2 separate regions of the Homo sapiens genome follow, and region 2 is linked to region 1. Evidence: fine-mapped expression QTL. A gene starts in region 1. The other region holds a variant in brackets. All regions are shown on one strand. Distances are from middle to middle.

Region 1 (2,922 bases):
ACTGGCTTCCAGTTTTCACCAAGAAATGTAGAATGAAAAATAATACCATTTGCCCTAGCAATCCCATTACTGGGTATATACCCAAAGAAACAGAAATTGTTCTACCATAAAAACACATGTACATGCGTGTTCATTGATATTCATGATAAAGACATGGATTCAACCTAAATGCCCATCAACGGACTGGATAAAGAAAATGTGGTACACATATACCATGGAATACTATGCAGCCACAGAAGAATGAGATCATGTCCTCTCAGGGACATGAATGCAGCTGGAGGCCATTATCCTTAGCAAACTAATGCAGGAACAGAAAACCAAATACTGCATGTTCTTAGTTGTAAGTGGGAGCTAAATAATGAGAACAAATGGACACAAAGAAGGAACAACAGACACTGGGGCCTACTTGAGGAGGAGAGTGGGAGGAGGGAGAAGATCAGAAAAAATAACTATTGGGTACTACACTTAGTACCTGGGTGACGAAATAAGTTATATACCAAACCCCTGCGACATGAGCTTACCTGCACTTGTACCCCTGAACCTAAAATAAAAGTTAAGGGAAAAAAAAATATTTGCAAAGAAAAGGGCCTTGAATTTGCTTCTGATACATACGCGATATAACCTGAGGAAGATCCTCTCAGCAATAAGACTATACATGATGGGGCAAGTGTCAACTGCATACATTTGTCAGGACCAAATTTGTAGCTCATAATTTTTATGCAACTGTTTTTACCTTGGCGAGAATCAATGCTACAAATACTATTCCAAGTCTTAGTATATGGAACCAAACTCAAAACAGATGTCCAGCTAAATGCATTAAAGATCACAAGAAAGGAATTGACAAAGCTGAACACCATAGTTCTTCATTGCTAAGCATCTGAGGAGCGTCTGGTAGCTCCCCTGGGTCAGTCTTTCTATTATGATTTCTAGAACTTTATTTTTTCATTTTTTAAAAAATTCCAGGTGTTGAGAACTCACCTTTTCTAGTAGTTTTCCCTGGGAACACTTGGGGATCTACAAACATCTGAAATTGGAGGATGCTAATGGGCAAGAATCAAGAGAAAGGTAATTCAGAGACGACAACGAAGTGGGAAAGAAATTACAGGGTCAAAGCGAAAGAAAACCAAGCTGCTTGGGTAGGAAGGTGCAATGCAAGCCAATTGTTTACTGTATCTTGTCCGCTCCCAGAGCTGCGCCCGAGCTCTCGCGTTAACTAGGCAACATCGTTGCCACGGTAACTGGGAGGCGCGGGAGGGCGACAGCTCCCTGGACTCCCGGTAACCCTTACGTGCCCGGGGCTGGTCCGTGGGGCGGGGTGAGAGATGCCGGAATCTCGCGAGAGCTCCCGGGGGCCGTTGGGTAGCGTCTTCGCTGTTGCCCTTAGGGACGGCTGTGGGCCTGCTGGGGGTGGGGGCCCGAAGCGCCAGAGATGGCTGCTCAGCGAGGGATGCCCAGCTCCGCCGTGAGGGTCCTGGAAGAGGCGTTGGGCATGGGTTTGACGGCAGCCGGGGACGCGAGGGACACGGCGGACGCGGTGGCGGCTGAGGGCGCCTACTACCTGGAACGTATCCTTCCCGTGGAGGCGCGGCCCGCTGCGCTGGCGGGTAATGGGTGTTGGGACGAAGGCGAGGGCCTCCCACTGGCGGCGCCTTTTGAGCCTTGGGGCCACTCCGGAGGAGCCTCTGTTGGACTTCAAGGTGCTGTTTTTGCCACCACAGTCTTCCTGAGAGCCACTCACTGAATTTCTCGCCCTTAGTAGCCCAGGGTGTCCTGTACCTGTTAGAAGAGTTGGGAGACCTTCCAAGGCCTCATACTTAGTAACCACTCAGTACATTTTGGATGGAGGGTTGCTTTTTATGTTAAGACAGCACAACAAATTGCTTCAACCCTCCTTTCAAATAATGGGTTTCCTAAATAAGCCCTCAATCTTTCAGAAAGCCGTCCCAATAAATTCAACGGAGGAACGTTAGGAGACTAGGGAAAGACCTCTGCCATTGGACTTTAAGGAGCTGAAGCTCAGAATACCCAACCCACGATCCTGTTCGATGGTCCAGTTAATGCTTAAATGCTTAGTTTTGATAGCATTATCTTCCTGAGTAGTTCCAAGTTTGACTACTTAATAATAAATACTAATAGTATAGTTGCTTTTTTTTCTTGAGCAAATAAATAATGATCTGGTGAGCTACACAGCTCAGAGATATTAGGAATAAAGCAGATGGTGATTAGCGATTTTTATCGGAAGTACCAGAAAAATTGAATAACAATGTGTGGATAATTAGGTCCACTATTTCTTGTGTAAGGCTTTAGAACTTCTTTCCTCTAGTTATATAGATTAATTCCTACTAGGGAGACGGGGAGGGTTCATGAGAAAAAGACATGTAACTCCTTTATTCAGGGAGGTAAGAAAGAGATGATTATCTGTTCAGTTCTTAAAGATACCAAGGAAACTCCAAAATCTGCCAAATCTTATTTGTTTGTCCAACTGTAATCCTCTCCAGGTTTAATTCAAGATTTCAGAAATCCAGCAATGATTCATTTCGTGAGCTTTGACAAGCCGATTAACCTGTCCTGACTCAGGCTCAGTACACATCCACACTACAGAGAGCTTTGAAGAATTTAGCTGAAAGATTAAAGAAAATATGTAGTATTTTATTGGGTGCAAAAACGACTTTTACAGGAATAGAAATTTGAATCGCTTGAAATGAATTTGAAAGAAATATATGGGTGCTTTAGTGTCATAAATGAGGTTTTATACTGTTTTCGTAGATGTAACAGGCAGTCTTTTCCAGTGATATTCCTCTTTAACAACGATTTTCATAATTCTTCCTAAGCTTATCTATATCCAGTGCCCTTGCTACTGAATGGTAACCAGGCATCTTGTAATTTTGTTTGCATTAAAATTATTTCCGTGAACACATAGTT
Region 2 (2,922 bases), 460 kb after region 1:
GAGGTGAGTGAAGGCTCTGCCTGTAAAGAGGGCCACATTTTCTTTTAAGAAGTCAATTTTAAGTCTTCTGGTAGATTGCGTTGTAGTTCAGGCCATCATCATTTGCCTCACTCTCATCATGCTTACTGAAATGAGCAAATGAATAAACTCCAGGGGGAAGTCCCGTATCAGCAAGGCATCATATGCCACAGACTTCTACTAGTTATAGGGCATATACACTGTGTAAAGTGAAAATAACAAGGGTAACTTACTAACCTCCTCAGTGAGAGGCTGTGGCAAAGTCAGTAAGAGGAAGAGAAAGGGTAACTGTTGGCTGAACACCCAAGAGTGTGGGGTAAAGATGGGGCGTGAAGGTGAAGCTGGGCTATGGACAAAGAAAGACCAATTACTTGGAACCCATTTCACTATCATTTATTGACAGCATTCTAACCATCCCCATCAGTGACTGCTGAGGCAATAGAAACCACTTTCAAACAGATTAAAACAGAAATTAACTGTTCTTTCAACCTATGTTTCCTTAAAATATATCATGCCATAGTGTGAGTTTTTAAAGTTTGGGGAATTTTAGGGCTAAAACAGCAGGTGCTGAGCATTAAGTTATTCAACTATTAATTTAACGCCTCATAACTTTAGTTAATGTGACAACTAAAAGAAATTAAAATATAATAAATGTTTCTTAAGGAGAAATCTTATTAATCTTTATTAAAGGTAAGGGTAAAGTAAGAATATATGATAAAAATCTGAATAAAATAAAAAATACTAGTTAAGCGCATGTCTACAGGCACCACTTTAAACATTTTCTATGTATAAGTATATTTAATAATACATTATTGTTATTATTTCCATTTCAAAAATAAAGGAAGTTAAGGACAGACAGATTGGGTGATATGCTGACTCCTATATGTTGGAATTTGAATTAAATCCAATCAGTATTCTCTACCTCCCCAAGTCTGAGTATGCTCCATTGCCTTCAAAAACCAGAAGCAAATATCTGTTAGGATCATAATTGTAAATGAGTTAACCTTACCTGTTGAAAGACTAAGGAAAAAAAAGTAAACCGCTGAGTAAAATAAAATGATACACAGAGATGATAAATTAAAGTTTAGTCAAAGTTATATTAATCAAGTACAGATAAAAGAAAGCAGAGATTATAATGTTGATTTCAGATTTTA[A/C]AAAATAATTCATAGCAAACTAAAATTGAATGTTTCCAAGAAGGCCATTTTTATTGCAGTGTAAAATCTTAGGGATTTTACAATGACTAAACATTACATTAGTCATTTTATATATGTGCCAAATAGCTTGATAGGTATATTGTAAATTCAGCTTTATAAATTTAGAGATTATATTATTAACTCAAATTGGATTTGCAATTGTTATATCTACCTGTTGAATTAAACCTGTATCATTTTGAGTTGTTCTCTTTTTTCCTTGAACTCTCTTGTCTAATATTTATAGAGTTACACTAGGTTTCTTTGGCTTCATATGTGCATGGTTATTATTTTTCATTCTTTTTTCAACCTTTCTGTGTAATTGTGTTGTAGAAGTCTTTTGTAAGTGGCTTATAGTTTTGTTTTTTTAATCTAGTTCTCATTTGTTTTTAATTGGAGCATTAAATCAATTTATAGTTGATGTAATACCAATGTGTTTGGGTTTAAATCTGCCATCTGGTTTTGTACTTGCTGTTCTGTGTTTAGTATTTTTTTTTTACTCTCTTTTCTTGGTTTCCTTTTTATTACAAAAGCATTTTCAATTAAATTTTTTCCCTAAGAATTTTGGAACTTACAGATTGTTTACTAATTTTGGAGACAGTACAGATTCTGTCTTATATACTTCTAGTTGAATATTAATAAATTCATTTGTCTTCCCTTTCAAGAATACAAGGACATTAGTATAGTCCATTTGCACCTCTTCTGACTGACATGTTACTATTGTATATTTTAATTTCATTCTGTTATGATACTAACAAGACATTATCTTATTGTTCTGTTCAATTACTAGTTTATAAATTTACTCACGTATTTACCATACCCACTGATCACCTCACATAAAATTATAAATACCTCTACAGGTACACTCTTGATCCCTCCTGTCTTATTTTGCTTATTTCTTTTTTTTTTTTTTTTTTTTTTGAGACGAAGTTTCGGTCTTGTCGCCCAGGCTGGAGTGCGTGGCGCAATCTCGCCTCACTGCAACCTCCACCTCCCGGGTGCAAGCAATTCTCCAGTCTCAGCTTCTCGAGTAGCTGGGATTACAGGCGCCCACCACCACGCCTGGCTAATTTTTGTATTTTTTAGTACAGACAGCGTTTCACCATGTTGGCCAGGCTGGTCCTGAACCCCTGACCTCAGGTGATCCACCCGTCTCGGCCTTCCAAGTAATCCTGAGTAGCTGGGATTACAGGCGTGAGCCACCGTGCTCGGCTGCTTATTTCTTAATTCTACAAATTTGCCAGTATTTAACATGCCGTATTGTTGTTTTTTTGAGACGGAGTCTCGCTCTGTCGCCCAGGCTGGAGTGCAGTGGTGAGATCTCCACTCACTGCGAGCTCCACCTCCCGCGTTCACGCCATTCTCCTGCCTCAGCCTCCCGAGTAGCTGGGACTACAGGCGCCCGCCACCACGCCCGGCTAATTTTTTGTATTTTTGGTAGAGACAGGGTTTCACTGTGTTAGCGAGGATGGTCTCTATCTCCTGACCTCGTGATCCACCCGCGTCAGCCTCCCAAAGTGCTGGGATTACAGGCGTGAGCCACCGCGCCCGGCTGTATTGTTGTTTTTTAAAAAATTATTTTAGTGTTTATTGTATCTCCTCTTCCAACTAAAATGTATGTTCTGAATACACTGACATTCATGGATTTTTTCCTAGTGCTTAGAACAATGCCTGGCCCCTATAGGAAGCACCAATTATATATTTATTGAGTGAA

Direction of the effects. Alleles are on the strand shown, and positions count from the first base shown. SD is a standard deviation of normalised expression in the study named.
As copies of C replace A in region 2, the expression in iPS cells of the gene that starts at base 1,410 in region 1 goes down (large effect, 1.7 SD a copy in HipSci).

The links.
Region 2: its variant is fine-mapped to the expression of SPAG16 in iPS cells (HipSci, PIP 0.93).

The regions. Positions count from the first base shown.
Region 1 is chr2:213,283,055-213,285,976 of GRCh38, forward strand. SPAG16 (sperm associated antigen 16) reads left to right here and starts at 1,410. Exons shown (of 16, transcript NM_024532.5): 1 at 1,410-1,565. The coding sequence starts at 1,430. SPAG16-DT (SPAG16 divergent transcript) reads right to left here and starts at 1,155. Exons shown (of 3, transcript NR_161186.1): 1 at 979-1,155. RefSeq lists enhancers at 1,443-1,572, 1,613-1,662, 1,733-1,812.
Region 2 is chr2:213,740,441-213,743,362 of GRCh38, forward strand. All of the region lies in intron 10 of SPAG16 (sperm associated antigen 16), which reads left to right. Among named protein-coding and RNA genes, the nearest start is that of MIR4438, 16 kb to the right of the region's middle. The variant A/C (reference allele first, on the strand shown) is at 1,173.